Linked DNA regions of Homo sapiens: all the other regions are linked to region 1. Evidence: fine-mapped expression QTL. A gene starts in region 1. Each other region holds a variant in brackets. All regions are shown on one strand. Distances are between the middles of the regions.

Region 1 (5,100 bases):
ACCTCAGGCCAGAGTGCAGAGCTGCTCAGCGGGGCCCCTTCCCCTCCCTTGCAGTAAGCTTTAAGACCTCATGAGGATGTTTAAGATTTCTCCCTTTGGGCCAGGAGCACTGGCTCACGCCTGTAATCCCAGCACTTTGGGAGGCCGAGGCAGGCAGATCACAAGGTCAGGAGATCAAGACCATCCTGGCTAACACAGTGAAACCCCATCTCTACTAAAAATACAAAAACAAAATTAGCCGGGTGTAGTGGCAGGCACCTGTAGTCCCAGCTACTTGGGAGGCTGAGGCAGGAGAATGGTGTGAACCTGGGAGGCGGAGCTTGCAGTGAGCCGAGATGGCACCACTGCACTCCAGCCTGGGTGACAGAGCACGATTCTGTCTCAAAAAAAAAAAAAAAAATTTCTCCCTTTGCTCGGCAGGTTACACAGTCCAGCAAGCTATGTGCCCGAGCTTCCCAAAAGCCCCCAATCATTTCTCATTCATTAGGTCCTCCTCTTGCACTTCAGGGCCCCATCTCCTGACTCCCACCCACACCCCACCATCCAGACCCATGTCTTCTCCCACACCAACAGATGGAGCAACCAAACCCATCCCCAGGATCATAGACAGAGGCTAACAAATCCTGCCTCAGGTTTATTTGTACAAATAGCACAGGAGGACCCCAGCCCCATGCAGATGGTAGCCCAGGGGCGGGGGTGGGGGGTCGCACCAGTCCTTCTGTCCTCATGTTGGCAGAGATATCTACTCTGAAGCCTTTGTAGGGGCCTGGGTACGTTTGGGAGCCTGAGCTGGAACTGAAGCTGGGGCTGCAGCCTGGGCCTTGGTTTGATCCTTGGCCTTGGCCTTGGCCTTGGCCTTTGGCCGGCACAGCCTGAGCCCCTTGGCAATACGGGCACGAGCACGCTTCCCAAGCTTGGGGTGGGCAATGTAGGCAAGTCGATCGAGCTTGCGGCTGACACCCTTTGGGATCTTGGGCTTAACCTCCTTGGGCTTTACGAGGGCCTTGATAGCCTCGGCACGTGCACTCATGGCCTTGGCATTGTTGGCCTGCATCTTCTTTAGGCCCTTTTTGTTGTGCTTCTTGGCAAAGCGCATGTTCCTCAGGAACTTGGGGTCCACCTGAAAAGCAGGAAAGGTACAGGTGGCAGCATGTGGGTCCCCAAGTCTCTCCCTGCTGCCCCTCTCCATAGGGGTACCCAGCATTCTAAAGACAGCATCAAGTCAACCTCAAATGTGGAAATACCCAACCTCTTGAAACTATTTCCAGAGAAAGTGTACCACCACCCCAGGGAGCCAATACGCCACCTGGGTAATGCTGTGCAGACCTCCTTCAAGAACAAAATTACAAGCTGCTTTGCTGCCCTGTCTGCCAAGGTTGTGGGGCTTCAACTTCCTACAGCAGGGGTTCGACCAAGTTTTTTCCTGACATCCCCTCAGGGACACCCCCTCCCCTCTTTAGAAGAAGGTGTCAATTAAATACCAAGTCTGGTCCAAAAGACTTATAGCCAAGGTGGGATATGGGGAAACTGAGGCTCAGAGTTTGTGATTCACTCCACGGAACAGAGAGCAAAAGTAAAGGGAAGGAACAGACTGGGGACATGCTCAGCTCTCCCCTAGACCCTCCAGCCTTCTCAGCTAATCCTTAGAACCCCCTGACACAGGAAGAGAAGCTGACCCCAACTCCAGCACTGGGTCAGATGGAGGTCATAAGGCTGGTCAGTGTGGGAATGTGCCCTGCACGCACTCAGACAAGGCCACTCCTTACCCTAAGTGCCACTGCCAAGCAAGGGAGATAGCCAAACTGCCCTCAGGAGGCAGGTTACACCCTGACCAGAGGGTTACACTTCAGGCTGTGGAGACCAAGGAAAGCTTTATTATGGGTCTGGTAGGGTAGAAAAAGGAATTGCAGGCTTTGGGTGGGCCAGTTAGGCTGTGCTCAGGCAGAAGCCAAAGCTAGAGAAAAACTACATGAGAGGCCTTGACTGTGCACCTGGAACCAAGAAAAGACACTTCCATGTGATTCAGTGCACTCACCCCCTTAAGAGATTCGTATCTTTGTGATCGGGGTTTCTTGATACCATTTCTGTGCCATTTTCGGGCTGTGGGAGAAAAAAAGGGAATTAAGCCAACAAAGAACTTTCCTCTAATAAGACCACCCAACATCACAGCTGGCAAGTCTGGGAGAACCAACACTTCCTACAGCAGCTACACTTGAGATATGGGAAACCCTTACTACTAAATGCAAAACACTCTGTATCTCAAGTAGATCTCTAAACCTATAAACCCTAAAGTTATTACTGGGTGAAATCAATCAGCCTCAGGCCCACAATGGAAACGTGCCCCTTCATCTCTGTCCCAGTTTGCCTGAACCAGTCCTTGCCAGGGTCTGGGATGTAGGCAGGGCCCAAAAAACTTACACTGGTTGTGTGTGGTGTGGTTCTTGGACTTGGCCATGTCTGCACCTGGAAGACAAAAGTGGAGATCAGGGTTAAGGGCTCGCCAGGCTGGGCCACCTCTGCCCCCCCCATTCTGGTCAGAATGAGCCTGCAGGCAGAGAATGTGCAGCCTCCACGAGTCTCGGCTTACTCTGCACGACCAAACGCCAGTCCTGGCCTCCCAAACCCAGGTAATGATGCCCTGAAATCAACTCCTTACCCCCGGAAAGCTGCATTCCCCAATAAAGTGGCTTTCCCTGCCATCCCCCTCCTAGGACCTAGAAGCACCATTCCCACCCCGCAGCTTTTGCTCCCGACAGACACACGGTCGGTCACCAGTCCTCTCCGCAGCCCGCGCCCCGCCGCCACCCGTAAGTCGCGGATGGCATCGGATGCCGCGCGGCCAACACTCACCATAAGCCGCGGCTCCCGAAGCGCCTAGAACCGGAAGAGAAAGGGGCTGCGGTGCAGCACGGGAAATAGGGTCAACAACGCCGGAAAGTACTACTGGAAAAGCTTCCCCAGGCTCCGCGAAGAAAAGTTCCGAAGCCCGGAAGAACGCAAGCCAGACGTGGAGGCGGTGCTACGAGCTTGCCTCCGCCCCCTTCAGGCTGCCTCCTCCCTTCTCTGTTTCTCCAGGACCTGTCTCTTAAGTCTTATTCAAGATACTGAAAAAGAAAGGAGTCCTTGAGGGATGTTGTTGGGCAAGAAGATCTGTGTTCTTTTTCTTTTTTTTTTTTTTTGAGACGGAGTTTCGCTCTTCCACCGAGGCTGGAGGGCAGTGGCACAATCTCGGCCCACTGCAACCTCCGCCTTCCGGTTTCAAGCGATTCTCTTGCCTCAGCCTCCCGAGTAGCTGGGATTACAGGCGCCCACCACCACGCCCGGCTAATTTTTACATTTTTAGTAGAGACGGGGTTTCACCATGTTGGCCAGGCTGGTCTCGAACTCCTGACCTCGCGATCCGCTCGCCTCTGTCCCCCAAAGTGCTGGGATTACAGGCGTGAGCCACCGCACCTGGCCGATCTGTGTTCTTAAAAGCACCCCTGTAATCCCAGCACTTTGGGAGGCTGAGGTGGGCGGATCACGAGGTCAGGAGTTCCAGACCAGCCTGGACAACATGGTGAAACCCCATCTCTACTAAAAATCCAAAAAAAAAAAAAAAAAAAAAAAAAAAATTCACGGGGCGTGGTGGCACGTGCCTGTAATCCCAGCTACTCTGGAGGCTGAGGCAGGAGAATTGCTTGAATCTGGGAGGTGGAGGTTGCAGTGAGCCAAGATCGCACCATTGCACTCCAGCCTGGGCTACAGGGCGAGACTCTGTCTCAAAAAAAAAAAAGAAAAGCACGCCTGACTCTTTCGTGGAGAAGGAGCAGAGGGGAGGAAGGAGAGAGGGCTGCCTGGACCTGAGGGAGGACAGTGGGAATGCAGAGGAGTGGACAAAGAAAGAGTACTGGACTTGGGACACAGAAGATGAGGGAGAAAAAGGAGGCAAGGATAGCCCCTATGTCTTTGGCTTGACAACTGGGTGAATGGTGGGCTGTTTACAGAGATGGAAGATTGAGTGGGGAGCAGGGGCTTTGTTTGTTTTGTTTTGAGGGGGAATGATGAGCCAGATATTTTTGTTGGATGCATTAAATGTGAGATGCCTGTTGGACATCAGAATTGAGAAATTGTTGCCTCTAACAACTCTGTTGCCTTCTCCACCTCTTCCCCCTATAGTTCATTTTCCACACGGCAGTGGGGCTTGGGGACTTGTTTTAAGATACAAATCAGATCCTGTCCCTTAAATCTGCAAGGACATCCCCTTGCATTGAAGATCAATTCTTTACCCACTTGACCCTGACAACCTCTGTCATTTACTTCTCTCCAAACGCATTGCCTTTCTTTCCTGCCAACCACAAATGTGTGTTCTGCCTCAGGACCTTTGCACTTGCTATCCCAGCCACCTGGACTGCCCTTCTCCCTGCTTTTTGGATGGTGTGCTCTTTCCTATAGAGGCCTCCCTGGACTCCATTATCTAAAATAGAGAACCACTGCCTCATCTCACCAGTGATTCTGTGTCCTCTCATGGTTTCCTTTCTTTTCTATTCTTTTTTTTTTTTTCTTTTTTTTAGACAGTCTCACTCTGTCTCCCAGGCTGGAGTGCAGTGGTGCGATCTCAGCTCACTGCAACCTCTGCCTCCCGGGTTCAAGCGATTCTCCTGCCTCAGCCTCCTGAGTAGCTGGGATTACGGGCGCACACCACCACTCCCAGCTAATTTTTAAAGAATTATTTTTAGTAGAGACGGGTTTTCACCATGTTGGCCAGGCTGGTGTTGAACTCCTGACCTCAGGTGGTCTGCCCGCCTCGGCCTCCCAAAGTGCTGGGATTACAGGCGTAAGCCACCGTGCCCGGCCATGGTTTGCTTTCTTTATAGAACTTTCCCAGACTCTAATTGCATTGTTTACTTAGTTGTGTATGTGTCCATTATCATAGGAGCCCAGAGTTTGGGACTGGTTTGATCACCTTCATTTTCCCACTGCCTAACTCAGCATAATGTAGATAGAGCAAGAGCTTAATAAACACATGCCCAGTGAACGTTCCTTGACAAGCCAGGTTCGTGGAGTGACAGACGCATACTGCAGAGGTTTAGGGAGTGAAGCGGAAAGGAGGTTGTGGAG
Region 2 (5,100 bases), 28 kb after region 1:
CCCTGGCCTTTGGAGCTGGTAGAGGGGGTTTATTTCCTAATGGCTGGTGGGGACTGGGGTGCTGAGGGGTTGTCTCAGACTGACTTCACTTCTCCATCCAGGAAATGAGCTGGCCTAACTCTGCCTGGATTTTCCTCAGCCCCTGGGGAGGGTCCTTGCCTTTGAGCTGGGGTAGGGAGAGACTGGCCACCCTCAGAGACCGGGTTCCAAAGGAGCCTCTCCCGGGATGGGCCCAGGGTGGCTGCCACCTCCTACCTGCTCCCTTGCCCCCCATGCCTTCGGTTCTCCTAATGTCCTAACATCCACATGCTCTCCTGCTCTGGGGCCACTCTCCAGGCAGTCTTCCTAGATTGATACAGGCTGGGAGGAACCATGTTCCCAACGCCCAAAGCAGGCCTGGAGCACCCCTGCCTGCCCCTGCTCTTAGGAACCCTCCCCAGCAAGGCCTGGCCTGAGGCCGTGGGCCTCCACCTTCCTTTTCCTGTTCTTTTCTCGGTGCTGCCTCTCTCCAGGCTGTCTCCTACACAGCAGCCCTCTGGTTCTCCCTTGTGTCTCTCCATCTTGTTTCCCTGGGTTTTATCTTTGTCCCTTGGTTTCAGACTCAGACCCGGCTGTGTCTCTGGTTCAGTCTCCATTCTGCCTCTCTGCCTCTGCAGTTGGACTGGTGACTCCCTGTCCCCTCTCTAGCTCTGCTTGGCTCTCTCTTGTCCTGTCTCTGATTATCTCCACCTCTTTGTCATTGTGACTCTGGAACCCTCCCTGCCTGGCCAGGATGCCTGCTCAGACATCTGCTCCAACTGCCACGCACTGGGCCCCATGAAGAGCTTAGGGGACTTGTAGTCTCAGCTCTGGCCCAGTGCCAGGGGAGCTCCTGTGATTCCCAGGAGGCAAGCGAGGGAGAGACGAGACAGAGGGCCGCGTGCCTGCTCTGCTTGTCCCTTGGGGAGCCTAATGATGCTGGGCCTCCCCTTGGTCAGGCCATTGGCCATGCCCCCCCACCCTGGCTCCCAACTCCCAGCACCACATGGCTCATGGTCACCCCCAACGCCCCCACTATGGCTGTGTGACCCTGGATGAGTTTCTGAGCCTCAGTTTCCTCTTCGACAGAGTGGAACCAATTCCAAGGCCAGCTTCAGCAGGCATCAGAAGGTTAAATGTCAATGCACATGGCAGGCATCTGGCACTGTGCCCAGCATGCTGTGGCGCTCAGTAGAGTCCCCGTTACCATCACTGTGGCGGTTATTCTTCAGGATCCCCAGAGCCATGGCCAGTCGGATGGGGGCTGGGTGGAGCCTCTGCTGCTTGTCCCCATGTGCACCCTGCGTCCCACGCCCGTCCTTCCTCTGCTGGGCAGTAGACGCCCCCACAACCTGGGACCTGCCTGTCTTCGGAGCCAGTCTGAATTGTACACAGTGATGCTCACCCAATTAATTTTCACTGGCTTGGGGATATATTTTTTTTAAGAAGACATTTTTCCAGGGGGAAAAACACGCAGGAGCTATAATTAGTTGGGAAGAGGAAAGAAGAGCGGAGTGTGTGAATCACCAGCCCCAGTGACAGACTGTTGGAGCCGAGCAGAAGTTTCAAGAGAAGCCACTGGGTTGTGGGTGAGTTGGGGTGGTGTGTCGTGGGGATGGCGCGCTGCCGCAGGCAGGCTGGGGTCCTGGAACACCAGGTCCAGGGATGGGCACCTTCACCCCTCACCCTGAAGAGTCTTTTGCCCCGCCTCTCCCCAGACCCTGTCACCCGACACCCTATCCCAGCGTTCAGCTTCCCTGCAGCTCCTGTCTGCCCTGACTGACCCCAGGACCTCTCCCCTCCCCAGTCCTTGCTGACACAAGCCTGAGCAGAGAGACTAGCACTCAAATGAGGAGAGAGAAACTGTAGAGGATTTGAGCTCCAGGGTTTGGAGACTGTCCAGTCCAACTCCTTATTCATTCATTCATTCATTCATTCAT[T/G]CATGCATGCATGCATTCATTCACTTAGTCATCAAATACTGAACTACTGCTCTGTGCCTAGCCCACAGACAAGCAAACTGAGGCCCAGGGAAGTGCCAGGCCTTGCCCAAGGCCATACATCTGTGAGTGGTGCAGCCTCTCTGCCTGTCCGTCATCACTAGCTCTGCTGAGCCAGGCCCTGGCCAGGGCTCTGACCACCAAGGTGACCACAACTGGAACCCACTCTCACAGAGCCCCTATCCCAATGGGGAAGCAACCAGGTACCTGTTAGACAAGGAGCCTGGAGGTAGTTCCTGACCAGCCTGGTGGACATGGAGGACTTCCCAGGGGAGGAGGAAAAGCAGCATGACAGCGGCCATCATGCTGGGAAGGACCTTAAATGACTCAGTGTGCCTAAGCTCGGGGAGTGGCAGGAATTGGGGTCAGGGTTGCTAGAGAGTGAGGCTTCTTGGACCAGGTCATTACAATGCCCATTTTGCCCACATTTCTCCTGAGCTCCTGCCTGAATGGGCATGACCTGCTGGCCAGGGGCACCCTGGGGCAATGCTCACCATGTGGACTTGGTCCTTGGAGACCCTCCACTAGTTCTTCCTGATGCCGGGAGCACCAGTCAGTCAGTGGACCGGACAGTCAGTGACCAAGGAGTGTGGCCCTGGGTTTCTCCCTCCCTCCTTCTCCCCTGGCTGAGGACCGGCTGCCTGACTCTCTAGGGGCCCCAGCTCAGGCCTCAGGAGGGAGCACACTGGAGCAGTGTGGCCTGGAACTGAGAGCAGAGGCCCCAGGTCCCCAGGGAGGGGATGCTTCCTCCCCTGGGAGAGCGTGGCATCATTCGGCACACAGAGAGCTCCCTTCTAACCCCAGACCAAATTAGCCTTCCAAATTATAGGCTGCGTTTCCTCTAAATTGGAGACTGGGTGGGAGAACAGAGGCCCGGCTCTCCTTCCTGCTTCCTGTTCACAGAGGGCCCTCAGTTGGTCTAGTCCCAGATCACAGGACCACATTCAGAAAGAATTCAGGACACACACACCCTCCTGCCCCTCAGTTCAGGGATCCCCAGGTCCCAGACCAGCATCCAGGGCTCAGGGGAAGCCTGTACCCTTCTGGGGTTTGACAACGAACTTAGAGCCAGCATGGTTCAGATAAGGCCAACCCAGAGTTCTGAGGTCATTTTCCGGGGGGAAGTCATTCATTCAAAAAACACTTTCTGGGTACATTCTCTGTGCCAGGTACAGGACAGAATGAGAAGGTGCACAGGTGGCTGTGGGAATGCCTGGTGAGGTTAGGGAGGGCTTCCTGGAGGAAGAGGCATATAAACTGAGACCCCAAAAAATGAATGTGCTCTTGGTGAGGGGAAGAGAGGGGAAGACAATTATAGGAGGAAGGAGCATTGAACGAAAATCCCAGGAGCAGAGAGTGAGGGAGTGGGCATCAAGAAGTGGGTGGAAACATTGGTTTGTCCAGATTAGGGGGTGGGGAGGAGTGTCAGTCAGCCACATTGGGAGGATTGCATTTCATCAGGGAGGAGGCCTTTGAGCAGGGGTGAGGGGGTGGGGGGTGCTGTGCAGAAGCAGGGCTGGACCCATTGCCTGACCCAAACAGAGGGCTCCTTGGGATCTCTCACACTGGCCTCCCTTAGGCCCCTTCCACATGGCCTCAGGCCTTTGGAGAAATAATTAAATTTACTTCAAGGAAAACATGGGACACGGGTTTTATTTCACGTGACCTGAAATGAAGGTGGCTTCCTATGTTTTTGCTAATTGACTTGGGACTTTTTGTGGTTTTCTTTTAGAAGAAAATTATTCTAGATGTTGAGAATAAGTGCAATTATTGTTTGGTGCTGCATGCAGAAATAAAAGGAAAACACCTCCCTGAGCTCACCCACCCCTGTGTTACAGAAGAGACAAGTGAGGTGGGGAGGGGAGGCCCCATAGCCGTGGCAGCCACAGTGATTGCTCCGGGGCAGGAGAGGGATGGCTTTCAGGGCTCAAATAGGACAGAGGATGCTTAGTGGGGAATATTCCTAACGGGGTGGAAGAGAGGAACTGGGAGATCCTCCAGCTCCTGATCTCACTTGCATACCTCTCCAGACACAGAGCTCACTGCTTACCAACTGCCTGGTAAATTTGCCCAGCTGCAGCTGTTGGACAGTCCTTCTTGAGTGAGGTGCTTCTCCCCTCAAACTCCCAGCCAAGGTTTTCTGCATCCTAACCTCTACCCACCCTCTGCCCCCAACTTTTCATCTTTCCCGCCTCGGCCTGAATGGAGTCTGGGGTCAGGGTGGACTCCGTGGGTAGGGCCCTGGGCTTCTGCAGGCTGCATAACACTAGCTGCCCATCTGATCTGTCCTGGGAATATGGCCCCAGATGGCTGAGGTGGGTTCCAGGCTAGAGCCTCCCCAGCTGGCTGCCAACATGTGCGCGTGAGGAGAGGCACACAGTCTGTTTCCTGGATGCCTGGCCTGTCAGCCTGCACATCCTGCCTGGACTGACCAGGTTGAGGACACAAGCCAGCGGGTAGAGGCAGGGCCAGACAATTTCATGGGCATTGACAGACAAGTGGAGCACCCCATTAGTGACCTCCCTCACTCAGCACACATCTGTTCGGCCCCTGCCACGTGTCTGGCCCTGTGATGGACACTAGGCCCTCAGAAATGAATTAGCCATGAACCCACACCCTGCCCTCCTAGACCAGGAGCCCTGGGTCTAGACAGGCATGGGGAGACCACAGGGAACAGTACAAAACCTGCAGCCCTGGCCACACCAGCAAAATCAACTCCAGACTTTTGGGAGTAAAATCCTACCGAAGCCACCTTCCACCCAGCAGCCAGAGAAGGACCTCTCAAAATCACCCCTGACCTCCTGCTCCTTCTGCATGGCCTGTCACGGCTCCCCAGTGCTGGACCTATGAGGCCCTGTGTGCCCCTGATCCCACCCACACTCCAGCCTCCTCCCTGGAACTCGACTCCCTCCCTCCACTCCAGCTGCCCCAAATGCTCTCGGGTTTTCATGGTCCCTCTAGCCATCTGGCCCTTGCCCAGGTTTTTCTCTCTGCCTGGAATATGTTCTCTGTCCTTTTCACCTGCTAACTCCTACTTACTCTTCAGATCCCAGCCCTCTCCCAGGGCAGCTTGCTCAGCCCCCAG
Region 3 (5,100 bases), 81 kb before region 1:
GGTAGCTCATGCCTGTAATCCCAGCACTTTGGGAGGCTGAGGCGAGAGGATTGCCTGAGCCCAGGAGTTTGAGACCAGCCCAGACTCAAACATGTTGAGACCTTGTCTCTACAAAAAAATTTTTTTAAATTAGCCAGGCGTGGTGGCGTGCGCCTGTAGTCCCAGCTACTCAGGGAGGCTGAAGTGGGAGGATCACTTGAGCCCAGGGGTCAAGGCTGCAATGAGCCATGTTTGCACAACTGTGCTCCAGCTTGGATGACAGAGTGAGACCCTGTCTCAAAAAAAATTTGATAAATTAGACTTTGTCCAAATTAAAACTTCTGCTTATCGAAAGACAGCACTCGGCCGGGCGCGGTGGCTCACGCCTGTAATCCCAGCACTTTGGGAGGCCGAGGCGGGCGGATCACGAGGTCAGGAGATCGAGACCATCCTGGCTAACATGGTGAAACCCCACCTCTACTAAAAATACAAAAAATTAGCTGGGCATGGTGGCGGGCACCTGTAGTCCCAGCAACTCAGGAGGCTGAGGCAGGAGAATGGCGTGAACCTGGGAAGCGGAGCTTGCAGTGAGCTGAGATTGTGCCACTGCAGTCCAGCCTGGGTGACAGAGCAAGACTCTGTCTCAAAAAAAAAAAAAAAAAAAGAAAAGAAAGAAAGACAGCACTTAAGCTACAATCTGAGGAAAGAATATTCACAATACCTATATCTGGCAAAGGACTCCTACTCAGAATATAAGAACTCTTACAACTCAGTAATAAAAAACAAACTAATAAAAATGGACAAAAGGCTTAAACCAATACTTTATAAAAGAAGATATTCAAGTGGCTTCCAAACACATGAAATTTGCTCAACATCATTAGATATCAGGGAAAGACAAAATTTAAGCCACCATCATGATGGCCAAAATTAGAAAAAAGAAAAGAAAAGGAGAATACCAAATGTTGGCAAGGATGTAGAGCAAATGAAACTCTCATACATTTTTGATAATACAACCAATTTGGAAATTCATTTGGCTATTTCTTTTAAAATTAACCATATACCTACACCTACTCTCTGACTCAGCGATTTCATTCTTAGGTATTTACTAAAGAGAAATGAAAACATATTCACAAAAAGACTTGTACAGGAATGCTCATAGCATATACTCATAATAGTCAAACATTGGGAACAAGTGAAATATCTATAAATAGGATAATGGATACACAAATTGTGGTATATTCATAAAATAAAATACAATTGGGCAATAAATAGCCAAGAACTAATGATACATGCAATAACATGGGTGAATCTTATCCATGACATTATATTGAGCAAAAAAAGCCAAATGCAAAACAGAACATATTGTATAATTCTATTTATATCAAATTTAAAACATGCACATTTGTTGTGGTGGCTCATGCCTATAATCCCAACACTTTAAGAGGCCAAGGATCTCTTGAACCCAGGAGTTTGAGACCAGCCTGGGCAACCTAGGAAAACACTGTCTCTACAAAAAATGTTTTTAAAAAAATTAGCCAAGGATGGGTGTGGTGGCACATGCCTGTAATCCCAGCACTTTGGGAGGCCGAGGTGGGTGGGCCACCTGAAGTCAGGAGTTCAAAACCAGCCTGACTAACACGGTGAAACCCCATCTCTACTAAATACAAAAAATTTAGCCAGGAGTGGTGGCACATGCCTGTAATCTGAGCTACTTGGGAGGCTGAGATAGGAGAATCACTTGTACCTGACAGGCGGAGGTTGCAGTGAGCCAAGATCATGCCGTTGCATTCCAGCCTGGGCAACAAGAGCGAAACTCTGTCTCAAAAAAAAAAAAAAAAAATTAGCCAAGTGTGGCGGTGTGCACCTGTGGTCCCAGCTACTTGGGAGCCTGAGGTGGGAGGATCACTTGAGCCTGGGAGGTCAAGGCTGCAGTGAGACAGGATCAAGCCACTGTACTCCAGCCTAGGTGACAGAGCAAAACCCTGTTTTTTAAAAAAATGCAAAACTAATATATTATGATAGAAATCATGAACAATGGACCAGGCGTGGTGGCTCACGCCTGTAATCCCAGCACTTTGGGAGGCTGAGGCGGGCAGATCACCTGAGGTCTGGAGTTGG[AGACCAGCCT/A]GACCAACATGGAGAAACCCCATCTCTACTAAAAATACTAAATTGGCCAGGCATGGTGGCGCATGCCTGTAATCCCAGCTACTCGGGAGGCTGAGGCAGGAGAATGGCTTGAACCTGGGAGGCGGAGGTTGTGGTGTGCCGAGATTGCACCATTGCACTCCAGCTTGGGCAACAAAAGTTGCCCATCTCAAACTCCATCTCAAAAAAAAAAAAAAAAATCTCGAACAGTGGTTGCCTCTGGGAGTTGAGATTGATTGGAAAGGGACACAAAGGGACTTTCTGGGATGATATGAGTGTTCTATATCTTGATGAGGTGTGGATTTGAGATATATGCATTTGTCAAAATTCATTTAACTTCACATTTAAGATTTCTCCATTTCACTGTATATAAATTATACCTTCGCCTTTTCAAGGAAGGTGAAATAAAGACATTTTCCAAAATATAAAAGCTGAGATAATTTATTACCAGCAGACTCACACTGCCAGAATGCTAAAGGAAGGTCCCGGGTGGAAGCTCAGAGCAGCAGGTGGAAATGAAAGCCTCACAATGGTGATTATGTGGGCAAACAGAAAAGATCATCTTTTTAAATGTCTTTAAAATACCATTGAATCCAGTGCTGGCAAGATGAAGTAAGTACACTACAGACAATCTTTCCCAGTGATTACAATGGAAAACTCTGGACAGAATACAAAGTCAACTAGACTCTGAAAAGTAAACAATAGCGGCCGGGCACGGTGGCTTACGCCTGTAATCCTAGCACTTTGGGAGGCAGAGGCGGGCGGATTACCTGAGGTTGGGAGTTCGAGACCAGCCTGACCAACATGGAGAAACCCTCTCTCTACTAAAAATACAAAATTAGCCGGCCATGGTGGCATGCACCTGTAATCCCAGCTACTCGGGAGGCTGAGGCAGGAGAATCACTTGAACCCGGGAGGTGGAGGTTGCAGTGAGCCAAGATCGGGCCATTGCACTGAGCCTTGGCAACAAGAGCAAAACTCCATCTCAAAAAAAAAAAAAGAAGAAGAAGAAGAAGAAGGAAAGAAAAAGTAGCAATAGCACACAGATTGGGGAAGAAAGTCAAGTCAAAGTCAAAGATAGCCTAAAATGCAGAACCGCACAAGTGTGAAAGTAAATAATCCAAAAGAAAGTCCTTATTTTGGATCAGAGGATCAGAAAAAGACACTTCCTCATGCTAGAGAGTATGGACAGCATCCTTCTTCTTTCTTTCTTTCTCTTTTTTCTCTTAGCCCTACCCCAAGGCCAGGCCCAGTCACAGAACCGCATTGTCCCGGTGGTGGTGCTATGGGCACCTGAAAAATCATCTCCCTAGCTAGAGTAAATGTACAAACGGACGGGACCCCTGTAGTCTGAAAGAAGTAATTTTTTCTCATTTCTTTTGCCCCTTTGCCCTGAAGGCAGCTCTAGTCACATGGAACTGCATGGAAGTGTGGTGGTCTAAAACTCTGAGACAAATCCATATTTCTGGCCAGAGGAACCAAGAACATAATCTCTAGGAGTGGAAGAATGAGGAAAGTTCAGAAAATAAGGAAAAAGGAATCCCCTAATTCTGTGTATAACAAACACATGTCTCAGGCTCACGCCTTAGCTGCACATAATAAATCAAAAATAAAATTCTAAGCCCCCAACCACCTGAATGGACCCCTCCTCTTGGGCAAGGGCACTCCAGAGTTAACCTGTAAAACTAGTTCAGGCCATGATGGAAAGTGGGAGTCAGACATGCCTCATTACTATTAATATCAACACAGACCTTAAGACTGATAGAACAGACTCTTTAAGGCTGATAAGAAACACATGCAATCTATTTTCTCTAAAGCCTGCTACCTGGGGCCTCCATCTGCATCATAAACCCTTGGTCTCTGCAACCCCCTTATAACCCAGACATTCCTTTCTATTGATTCCAAGTCGTTAGATAATAACTCAACCAATTGCCAATCAGAAAATCTTTGAATCTGCCTATGACGTGGAAGCCCCCACTTCCAGTTGTCCCGCCTTTCCAGACCACACCAAGGTACATCTTACATGTATTGATTGATGTCTTATGACTCCCTAAAATGTATAAAACCAAGTTGTAGGCCGACCACCTTGGGCACATGTCATTAGGACTTCCTGAGGCTGTGTCACAGGCATGTCCTTAACCTTGGAAAAATAAACTCCTAAACTGAGACTTGTCTCGGATGCTTTTGGTTTACAGCATCCTTTGAAAAATGAACTACAACAAAAAACCACTACCAAGTCCCAAACTAACCCCTACGTAGCACATGCAAGGGCAGACTCAAACAGCATAGAAAAGGCTTTGAAAACTGACACTGACATTAGAATCATCATCCACGGAAAGCAAGACAAAGCCTCTGACCTTTACGTAACTGATTTGCCTGCTAAAATAAAAACTAAACATTGTCCAGAGATGTAATATTTAAACTGTCTAGGATGCAATCCAAAATTACTCAATACGTGAAGAGCCAGGAAAATCTGATTAATTCCCAAGGGAAAAGACAATCAGTTTTTGCCATTCCCAAGTCACTCACGTGTTGGAAATATCAAAGACTTTAAAGCAGTTATCATCACCATTATCCATGAAGCAAAGGTGAACCCTTTTTTTTTTTTATTTTTGAGACAGAGTTTTGATTTTGTTGCCCAGGCTGGAGTACAATGGCGTGATCTCAGCTCACTGTAACTTCTGCCTCCCAGGCTCAAGTGATTCTCCTGCCTCAGCCTCCCGAGTAGCTGGGATTACAGGTGCCTGCCACCATGCCTGGCTAATTTTTGCATTGTTTTAGTAGAGGCAGGGTTTCATCATATTGATCAAGCTGGTGTCAAACTCCTGACATCAGGTGATCCGCCTGCCTCGGCCTCCAAAACTGCTGGGATTACAGGCATGAGCCACGGCGCCTGGCTGAACTCTTTTTAAATGAATAGAAAGATAGGAGCTCTCAGCAAAGAAATAAAACAAAACAAAAATATAACCAGGGCCC
Region 4 (5,086 bases), 50 kb before region 1:
CCAAATAGCCGATGTCTAATCCCCCACACAAGCTCATCCCCGGCCTCTGGCGATTGTTGGGAATTCTCTCCCTAATTCACGCCTGAGGCTCATGGAGAGTTGCTAGACCTGGGACTGCCCTGGGAGGCGCACACAACCAGGCCGGGTGGCAGCCAGGACCTCTCCCATGTCCCTGCTTTTCTTGGGTGAGTGTCCTATGGTCCTGCCCACGGCAGGGCAGGGCAAGGCCTGGTGGGACTGGCCTTTGCCCTCTATCAGTTCAAGGCCACTGATCCGGAGTTCTGGCTCCTCAGAACTCTTGAGTCCATTGGGAAGGGCTTCTACAGCTCTGGGTTCTAAGCTCCGGGAGGATAATCTGGCCCCAAGAATCCTGCCCCCAGGATCCTCTGCCCACCCTCCCCCATAGCTCGGTGACTCGGCCCGGCAACCATGCCAGGGCTGAACTAGCTGACACAGGGGGAGGAGCCCCGAAGTGGAAGAGAGAGAGCCTCCTTTCACTTTCCCTACCCCTCAGGACACACAGGTGAGCTGCAGAGGGTAGGGAGCCAGGCAGACCCTGTTGACCAGAGTGGGCAGACTGGACAGAGTCCTAACCTTGCACTTGGGACTGGGGAAAGGGGTGTTTCTGAGTGACAAAGAGCTGGGTGTGGTCTGGGGCTGGGAATGCCGTCAGAGTGGACACAGGATGCAGTGGGAGGCCACCGAAGGGCCAACCCGGGGTGGGGCAAGTTGGTGCTGTGCTGGCCCAGGGCAGGGGTGGGGACTGAGAGTGGGTCGTTGGGGATGAGGAGACCATGGAGGCCTAAGGGCCTCTCTGTGCCCCAGGACAGCCATGGCTCCAAAGCCGAAGCCCTGGGTACAGACTGAGGGCCCTGAGAAGAAGAAGGGCCGGCAGGCAGGAAGGGAGGAGGACCCCTTCCGCTCCACCGCTGAGGCCCTCAAGGCCATACCCGCAGAGAAGCGCATAATCCGCGTGGATCCAACATGTCCACTCAGCAGCAACCCCGGGACCCAGGTGAGCTGCAGTCCCCAGTCAGGCCCAGAGCCTGCCCACTGATAAGCACAAACACACCCAGGCCACCCCCTTAGGACTCTGTTCTGGTTTTGGAGCCCAAGGCCCCCAGGTAAGCGCCAGAGCAAGGCCATGTTCTCCTGACCCCAGACATCAGGGCTGTGTCCCGTCAGGTCCAGGCGGGTCACATCTGCCCTTCAGACCCCATGCAGGCCTCCTCCCACCGCACTTAGGGAAAGGCTGTGACTACATCAGTCTCCTGGGCGCTTGCCCATGTCCCCTCAGGGCAGAGCCATGTCCCTCTCAGATTCCCCCATCCAGGGCCCAGCTGTGTCCCCCCCAGCACCCCCCATACCTCCATGTCAGGGTTTAGCCATGTCCTCTCACACCGCATCCCCTAGGGAAGAGCAGTGACCCCCCCAAGCTTCCAAGACAGGGTCCCTCTGACTCCCACTGCCGTCAGACTCCTGTCCCCATCAGAGCCCTCTCGGTGTACGGCCAGGCACCCCATCTGACCCCAGCCAGCCTGCCCCCCACCTCCCCTCTGGCCCAGGTGTATGAGGACTACAACTGCACCCTGAACCAGACCAACATCGAGAACAACAACAACAAGTTCTACATCATCCAGCTGCTCCAAGACAGCAACCGCTTCTTCACCTGCTGGAACCGCTGGGGCCGTGTGGTGAGTGCCCTGCCTGCTCTGCACATACTCCCCAGGGTCCTCAAAAGGCCACAGCTACTGACTTGGGGGGGCACCTCCCAACTGTCCCAGGGCACTCAGCACAGGGCCTGGCCCGACACACAGGCCAGCAAATGCTGATGGTGGGCATACCCCTGAAGGCTGTCGGTTGCAGGGAGAGGTCGGCCAGTCAAAGATCAACCACTTCACAAGGCTAGAAGATGCAAAGAAGGACTTTGAGAAGAAATTTCGGGAAAAGACCAAGAACAACTGGGCAGAGCGGGACCACTTTGTGTCTCACCCGGGCAAGTACACACTTAT[C/T]GAAGTACAGGCAGAGGATGAGGCCCAGGAAGCTGTGGTGAAGGTGAGATGGCCAAGGAAGGTGGGCAGGCCCTGGACTGAGGGAGGGGACTCGTTGGAGAGTTCCCGCTGGTTGGGCTCTGCCACTGCCCAGCTGCGCAGCCTCAGCCACAGAACTCCCCTCTGGCCTCAGGCTGGCTGGTCTCTGTCTGGTGTCACGCCCTGCCCCGCTGCTCCTGCCCACATGTGCCCTCTATCTTCAGGTGGACAGAGGCCCAGTGAGGACTGTGACTAAGCGGGTGCAGCCCTGCTCCCTGGACCCAGCCACGCAGAAGCTCATCACTAACATCTTCAGCAAGGAGATGTTCAAGAACACCATGGCCCTCATGGACCTGGGTGAGGGGTGAGAGGCAGGCAGGGTGGCAGGGGCCTCAGGGTGGCAGGGCTGTGGGGCTGAGTCTCCCCACTCCCCTGTCCCCCTAGATGTGAAGAAGATGCCCCTGGGAAAGCTGAGCAAGCAACAGATTGCACGGGGTTTCGAGGCCTTGGAGGCGCTGGAGGAGGCCCTGAAAGGCCCCACGGATGGTGGCCAAAGCCTGGAGGAGCTGTCCTCACACTTTTACACCGTCATCCCGCACAACTTCGGCCACAGCCAGCCCCCGCCCATCAATTCCCCTGAGCTTCTGCAGGCCAAGAAGGACATGCTGCTGGTGAGGGCTGGCAGGGGTGCGGGCAGGCAGTGGGGCACTGAACAGACAGCCTAGGCGAGCGAGATGAAGGGCAGGTGGCCAAGAAGGCCCAGAAGGATGGACTGCCTGGGCAGGCTGACAGACGGGTGGGGAAGGCTGGGCAGACAGATAGGGTGGGGAGGGACAGGTGGGACACACAGGTGGGGTGGCTACAATACCAGTCATGTGAGAGAGGAGAGGGGAGGCCAGAGGTCAAGTGGGAAGACAAACTGCCAGGGCCCATCATCCTAGGTGCTGGCGGACATCGAGCTGGCCCAGGCCCTGCAGGCAGTCTCTGAGCAGGAGAAGACGGTGGAGGAGGTGCCACACCCCCTGGACCGAGACTACCAGCTTCTCAAGTGCCAGCTGCAGCTGCTAGACTCTGGAGCACCTGAGTACAAGGTGAGTTGGGCCCCACAGAGGGGCCAGGCTATCAGTGGGCACTGTCCCTCTGCCCACCTGCCCTCGAGGTGCCCAGAGGAATACTCGCCCTCAGCCTTCTCTTCCTGTGTCTCCAGGGCCTGAGGAGGGCTTGGGACTGGGGGAAGAAAAATGGGGGATTAGCTCCTGAGCCTCCCACCCTGGCAACCAGCTTCTGCTCTCCCCACAGGTGATACAGACCTACTTAGAACAGACTGGCAGCAACCACAGGTGCCCTACACTTCAACACATCTGGAAAGTAAACCAAGAAGGGGAGGTGAGGGAGGTTCCCCCACCTCTCCCCCATCACCACTGTGCCTTAGGAAGATGTCCTTGGCTAATCGGTCCCTTAGCAAATCGTTTAGCAGCTCTGGTCAGTTTCTGCCGGCCATGAGTGCGCGTGAGTAAGCAGAGGGACACTAGGCCTTGGTCACAAGCAGCAGGGCAAGGCGACTGAGTGCTCGGGTGGCATCACTCCCATTTCTCACTTCCTCTCCACTCAGGAAGACAGATTCCAGGCCCACTCCAAACTGGGTAATCGGAAGCTGCTGTGGCATGGCACCAACATGGCCGTGGTGGCCGCCATCCTCACTAGTGGGCTCCGCATCATGCCACATTCTGGTGGGCGTGTTGGCAAGGGCATCTACTTTGCCTCAGAGAACAGCAAGTCAGCTGGATATGGTGAGGTGCCCCTCTGGGCCAAGCCCTGGGAGGGTTGGCACTAAGATGGATTGGGCCCAGTCCTTGGCCACTGGAAATTCATGGTGAATCCAAGAGAGGAATCCTTTAATGGTTAATGACTACAGTGCTCAGTGGGCTGTCCTGGGCTTTGGTGGCGGGGGGTCTTAGAGAAAGTGTCTGATGGTCAGGGATGGCTTCCTGGGGGAGGCAATACAGATAGGATGGGTGCACCAACCAGACCTGGGAGGGGGTAAAAGGGGAGCCTTTGAGCCAGGTGTGGTGGCATACACCTGTAGTTCCATCTACTCTGGAGGCTGAGGCAGGAGGAACGCTTGAGCCCACAAGTTTAAGGCTGCCATGAGCTATGATCACACTCCAGCCTGTGTGACAGAGCCAGACTCCATCTGAAAAAATAAAAATAAAAAAGAGGAGACGTCAAGGCAAGGGGATAGGCAGAGAGGCTGGGAGGATGTGAGGATGTGGCAGGTCAGGGCTTCCAAACACTTCCTGATACTGGAGCTCAGAGCAATGCCTAGCCGGGGGCAGGGTGGGCTAGGGGCCCAGAACGATCGAGGAGGCTTTATCCAGAGAGTGATGGTTAGCCCAGCTGGACTTGTCTGTAGCAGGATCCCAGTGGCTACAGCTGTGGAGAGGGGGGCAGCAGCCAGAGGCTGCAGAGAGGCCATCCTCTTATCCAGGCTGGATGTGATGGGTGCCTGGCCCAAGGGCTGGGAAGTGCAGGGGAGGGAGCCCATGAGAGGGGCATGTAGGAGATGGGATGGGGAGCGTGTGGGAAAGGGTCAAGGCTGTCTCCAGTGACTTCTGAGTTTCTGGCCAGGAGTGTCCTCACCAAAATGACCCCCCCAGACCAGCTCCTCCACCCAGGCTGTCCCCATCATTGGAGGCCACCACCCAGCTGGCCAAGAGAGCAAGGACCAAGGATTCATCCCAGAACAGATGGGGCTGAAGTTCTAGGATGCCTGAGGTCACCAAGAGCAAGGGGTCCACCAGGAGGGCAGAGGGGCTTAGGAAAGAGTGGCGGGGTGGAGGGCTTAGGAGAGCCAGCGCGAGGAAGTCCCAGGTAGGGGCTGATGATGTCAGGAGCAAAGTCAGCAGAGCAGGCCAGGGAGAAAAGCCCCTGCCACGGGTTTGGTCACTGGGAGGCCATTGCTGACCTTGGTGAGGACAGCAGAGGGTACAGATGCCTGGCCATAGGGAGCACAGTGAGGTGGGAGGGAGCAGGCCGGGACAAGGAGGGAGTGACGG
Region 5 (5,100 bases), 470 kb before region 1:
GAGTGGGTAAGCAGTTTTACAGAGGGGAAGATGGGCTAAAAAGACCCCAAAGGTGTCTCCTATAGCTCCTTCAGGGAGTATTTACCTTGTGCTCCCCTCTTGCAGTGGTGTAACTACCACTGCCTGCTGCTGTTCTAACTCCTCCAATGGACATTTAGGCTTAGGACAGAAGCCAAGTGGTATAAATCCATCTCCAGGACCAAAATGAAATTTACCCAAAAAGTATTTGTGGGGTGAAGTGCAAAGAAAGCACAGAAAAAGGGCTGGCCTTCAGGTTCTTGGAGCCATCACAAAACAGGTCATGTTTGGGCTGGGCATTAGAGGGAGTAGATTTACTAGCTGGGAGGGAAAGATGACCCTCTGGCTTGAACTGGACCAGTCACACATTACTGTGCATCCAACCCATTGGGTGACTGCTATGGGATTAGGATAAGGCCTGGAAATGGGTGAGGAGTGGCCAAAGGAAGGATTTGACTCTTAAGTGTCTGAGCCAAATATTTCCTTTTCTGAACCCCCCTTCTCACAGGAGTTAAGGCTGTATTATAATTATGTTTGTTGGCCGGGCGCAGTGGCTCATGCCTGTAATCCCAGCAGTTTGGGAGGCTGAGGCAGGTGGATCATTTGAGCTCAGGAGTTCAAGACCAGCCTGGCCAACACGGTGAAACTCTGACTCTACTAAAAATACAAAAATTAGCCAGTCATGGTGGTAAGTGGCTGTAATCCCAGCTACTCAGGAGGCTGAGGCAGGAGGATCGCTTGAACCCAGGAGGTGGAGGTTGCAGTGAGCCGAGATTGTGCCACTGCACTCCAGCCTGGGCAATGGAGTGAGACTCCATCTCAAAAAAATGAAATTATGTTTCTGCACCTGTTTCTCCCAGGGGCCTTAGGGACTGTGAGGTTTTCATCTCTGTATAACAAATCCCCTGGGTCTGTTGGGTGAAACTGAATCACCAGATGGTGAATGTGTGGGCAGTAGCAACCCTAATAACCTTTTCAATACATGCTCACAGAAGCCAATCCTTGTCCAGATTTTAGGGCTACTGCAGTAGACTGACCTGGTCCCATCTGGAGCAATCAGACACAATTCCAGTAAGAATGGGATGCTACAATCTAGATAACTGCAAAAGTGCAGCTCAGTCTGGGGAACCCAGCTTACCTTATGTAATTGCTTTTTTTTTTTCGAGACAGGGTCTTGCTATGTTGCCCAGAGTACGGTGGCATAATCAAACCTCACTTCAGCCTCAAACTCCTGGGCTCAAGCAATCCTCCCATCTCAGCTCCCCCAAGTAGCTGGGACTACAGATGTGCACCATCACACCCAGCTATTATTTTTATTTTTGGTAGAGATGGGGTCTCACTATGTTGCCTAGGCTGGTCTTGAACTTCTGGGCTCAAGGGATCCTCCTGCCTCAGCCTCCGAGAGTGCTGGGATTATAGGCATGAGCCACCATACTTGGCCCATTTAGCACTTTAAAAAGTGTTTATAGGCCATTTCCCAATTTCTCGCCACTGTAAGCATGTTATTCCTGTTTTACAGATGAAGAACCTAGCTCAGGGAGGTTAAGTAGTTTGACCAATGTCACAAAGCATGTGAAAAAAGCTAGTCCCTCCCTCCCATCCCTAAGGAAGATCCTTTCATTGCTTTGAGGGAGTTATGGCCCCTCCTAAACATCCTAAGTTCTCTCCAGACCTCAGAGCCTTATCAGTGGGAATCATTGCCCTTTCCTTCCTCAGAGAAACAGAAATTGTGTGCCTGCTATGCAGAAGGCATCGTCCCTCCTCCCTTACAAACACCTGCTCTCAGAAAAACACCAGCACCAGCATAGTGAGACCTCGTCTCTACAAAAAAAAAAAAAAATTAGCCAGATGTGGTGCTGCACACCCGTAGTTCCAGGTACTCAGGAGGTTGAAGAGAGAGGATCAATTGAACCCAAGAGGTCAAGCCTGCAGTGAGCTATGATCATGCCACTATACTCCGGCCGGGGTAATGAAGACCCTGTCTCTGGAAGAAAGAAGGAAAGAAAGAAAGAAAGAACGAGTGAGAGAGAGAGAGAAAGGAAGGAAGGAAGGGAGGGAGGGAGGGAGGGAGGGAGGGAGGGAAGGAGAGAGAAAGCACCAGCATAACAGTCATTTACCTCTGAAGTAAGTAAAGTAAATGCACCTACTTTCTCACTGTGTAACATATGCTTTATTTGAATTCACAGATCTGGGTTCAGTTTATGGTTCCACCAGTTACTGGCTGTAAGATCTCAGGTAGCTCAATCACTCTGAGCTTCAGTTTCCTTTTCTTTAAAACTATGGTAAAATTCATATAACATAAAGTCATTTTAAATGAGGAATTAGGTGGCATTCAGTACATTCACAGTGTTATGCAACCACCACCTTATCTAGTTTATTTCTTTTTTGAGACGGAGTCTCACCCTGTCGTCCAGGCTGGAATGCAATGGCGCAATCTCGGCTCACTGCAACCTCCACCTTCTAGGTTCAAGCGATTCTCCTGCCTCAGCCTCCCAAAAAAAAGTAGATGATATTACAGGCATGCACCACCGGGCCTGGCTAATTTTTTTGTACCTTTAGTAGAGACAGGGTTTCGCCATATTGACCAGGCTGATCTTGAACTCCTGACCTCGTGATCTGCCTGCCTTTGCCTCCCTAAGTGCTGGGATTACAGGCGAGAGCCACTGTGCCTGGCTTTTTTTTTTTTTTTTTTGAGGAGTCTTGCTCTGTCCCCCAGGCTGGAGTGCAGTGGCGTGATCTCGGCTCACTGCAACCTCCGCCTCCCGGGTTCAAATAATTATCCTGTCTCAGCTTCCCGAGTAGCTGGGAGAATAGGCCCACGCCACCATGCCTGGCTTTTTTGTATTTTTAGTAGAGATGGGGTTTCACCATACTGGTCAGGCTGGTCTCGAACTCCTGACCTCAGGTGATCCAACTGTCTCGGCCTCCCAAAGTGCTGGGATTACAGTCATGAGCCACTGCTCCAGCCTCTATCTAGTTTCAAAACATTTTCATCACCCCAAAATAAAATCCTGTACACGTTTTTTGTTTTACATTTTTAAAATTTAATTTAAATTTTAATTTTTTTGAAA[C/A]AGGATCTTGCTCTGTCACCCAGAGTGGAGTGCAGTGGTAAGATTACAGCTCACTGCTGTCTCAAACTCCTGGGTTCAAGTGACTTTCCCACCTCAGCCCCAAAATAGCTGAGAGTACAGGCACGTGCCACCACATGTGGCTAATTTTTAATTTTTTTTTTTTTTTTTTTTTTGAGACAGAGTCTTGCTCTGTCACCCAGGCTGGAGTGTAGTGGCAAAATCTCGGCTCACTGCAAGCTCCGCCTCTCGGGTTCACACCATTCTCCTGCCTCAGCCTCCTGAGTAGCTGGGACTACAGGTGCCCACCACCATGCCCAGCTAATTTTTTGTATTTTTAGTGGAGACGGGGTTTCACTTGTTAGCCAGGATGGTCTCGATCTCATGACCTCGTGATCTGCCTGCCTCAGCCTCCCAAAGTGCTGGGATTACAGGCGTGAGCCACCGCGCCCTGCCAATTTTTAAATTTTTTGTAGAGATAGGCCAGGCTGGTCTTGAACCCTTGGGCTCAGGTTTTCCTCCCACCTCGGCATGAGCCACTGCATCCAGCACTTTTCACTTTTTGGATAATGTCTGTGATTTCCCAACCTTTAAATTTTGATAAAGTCCAATTTATCTATTTTTATAATGCTTTTTTTTTTGAGATGGAATTTTGCTATTCTTGCCCAGGCTGGAGTGTAATGGTGCGATCTTGGCTCACTGCAACCTCTGCCTCCCAGGTTCAAGCGATTCTCCTGCCTCAGCCTCCTGAGAAGCTGGGATTACAGGTGTGTGCTACCATGCCCGGCTAATTTTGTATTTTTAGTGGAGATGGGGTTTCTCCATGTTAGTCAGGCTGTTCTCCAACTCCCGACCTCAGGTGATCTGCCCACCTCGGCCTCCCAAAGTGCTGGGATTACAGGCGTGAGCCACTGCCCCCAGCCTTTATAATGCTTTTTTATTGTGACAAAATATATGTTACAAAATTTACTTTAGATTTTTTTTAAATTTTTTTTATTTTTATTAATTTTTTTTTTAGACAGAGTCTCTCTCTGTTGCCCAGGCTGGAGTGCAATGGCGAGATCTTGGCTCACGGCAACTTACGTCTCCCAGGTTCAAGCAATTCTCCTGCCTCAGCCTCCTGAGTAGCTGGGACTACAGGTGCACACCACCATGCCCGGCTAATTTTGTATTTTGGTAGAGACAGGGTTTCACCACGTTGGTAGGACTGTTCTCAAACTCCTGACCTCAGGTGATCCACCCACCTCGGCCTCTCAAAATGCTGAGATTACAGGCGTGAGCTACTGAACCCAACTCATTTTAGCTATTTTTATTCATTTATTTATTTTTCTCAAGAGGGAGTCTTGTTCTGTTCCCCAGGCTGGGGTGCAATGGTGCGATCTCGGCTCACTGCAACCTCTGCCTCCTGGGTTCAAGCGATTCTCCTGCCTCAGCCTCCTGAGTAGCTGGGACTACAGGCACGTGCCACCATCCCTGGCTAACTTTTTGTATTTTTAGTAGAGTCGGGGTTTCACCGTGTTGGCCAGGCTGGTCTCAAACTCCTGACCTCGTGATCTGCCCACCTTGGCCTCCCAAAATGCTGGGATTACAGGTGTGAGCCACCATGTTCAGCCCATTTTACCTATTTTTAAGTGTACAGTTTAGTGGCGTTACATTCATATTGTGCAATCATCATCACCATCCATCTCCAGAACTTTTTCATCTTCTCAAACAAAGTCTGTACCTATTAAAGAATAACTGCCCATTCCCCACTCCCTATGGCCTCTGGCAACCACCATTGTACTTTCTGTCTCTATAAAATTGACTATTCCAGGTACTTCATATAAGTCGAATATATAATATTTGTCCCTTTTATGTCTGGCATAATTAACTTAGCATAATGTCTTCAAGGTTCACCCATATTATAACATGTGTCAGATTTTCCTTTCCTTTACAGGCTGAATAATAGTCCATCAATTTATACACCACATTTTGTTTATTCGTTTATCTGTCTGTGGACACTTGGGTTGCTTCT

What was found.
Region 2: its variant is fine-mapped to the expression of RPL29 in whole blood (INTERVAL, PIP above 0.99).
Region 3: its variant is fine-mapped to the expression of RPL29 in whole blood (TOPMed, PIP 0.90).
Region 4: its variant is fine-mapped to the expression of RPL29 in whole blood (TOPMed, PIP above 0.99).
Region 5: its variant is fine-mapped to the expression of RPL29 in whole blood (INTERVAL, PIP above 0.99).

Annotation. Positions count from the first base shown.
Region 1 is chr3:51,993,007-51,998,106 of GRCh38, forward strand. RPL29 (ribosomal protein L29) reads right to left here and starts at 2,889. Exons shown (of 4, transcript NM_000992.3): 1 at 2,851-2,889; 2 at 2,419-2,463; 3 at 2,036-2,100; 4 at 516-1,120. The coding sequence starts at 2,455. The coding sequence ends at 743. RefSeq lists enhancers at 348-1,080, 2,834-2,993.
Region 2 is chr3:52,021,244-52,026,343 of GRCh38, forward strand. No RefSeq gene overlaps it. Among named protein-coding and RNA genes, the nearest start is that of RPL29, 28 kb to the left of the region's middle. RefSeq lists an enhancer at 2,687-3,066. The variant T/G (reference allele first, on the strand shown) is at 1,959.
Region 3 is chr3:51,912,060-51,917,159 of GRCh38, forward strand. No RefSeq gene overlaps it. Among named protein-coding and RNA genes, the nearest start is that of IQCF1, 11 kb to the left of the region's middle. The variant AGACCAGCCT/A (reference allele first, on the strand shown) is at 2,098.
Region 4 is chr3:51,942,524-51,947,609 of GRCh38, forward strand. PARP3 (poly(ADP-ribose) polymerase family member 3) reads left to right here. Exons shown (of 11, transcript NM_001003931.4): 1 at 1-185; 2 at 831-1,015; 3 at 1,566-1,694; 4 at 1,867-2,055; 5 at 2,255-2,387; 6 at 2,475-2,701; 7 at 2,972-3,121; 8 at 3,330-3,416; 9 at 3,643-3,820. The coding sequence starts at 833. Among named protein-coding and RNA genes, the nearest start is that of PARP3, 2.7 kb to the left of the region's middle. The variant C/T (reference allele first, on the strand shown) is at 2,013.
Region 5 is chr3:51,520,333-51,525,432 of GRCh38, forward strand. The region is part of intron 1 of LOC105377085 (a long non-coding RNA gene); the gene reads left to right. Among named protein-coding and RNA genes, the nearest start is that of RAD54L2, 16 kb to the right of the region's middle. The variant C/A (reference allele first, on the strand shown) is at 3,090.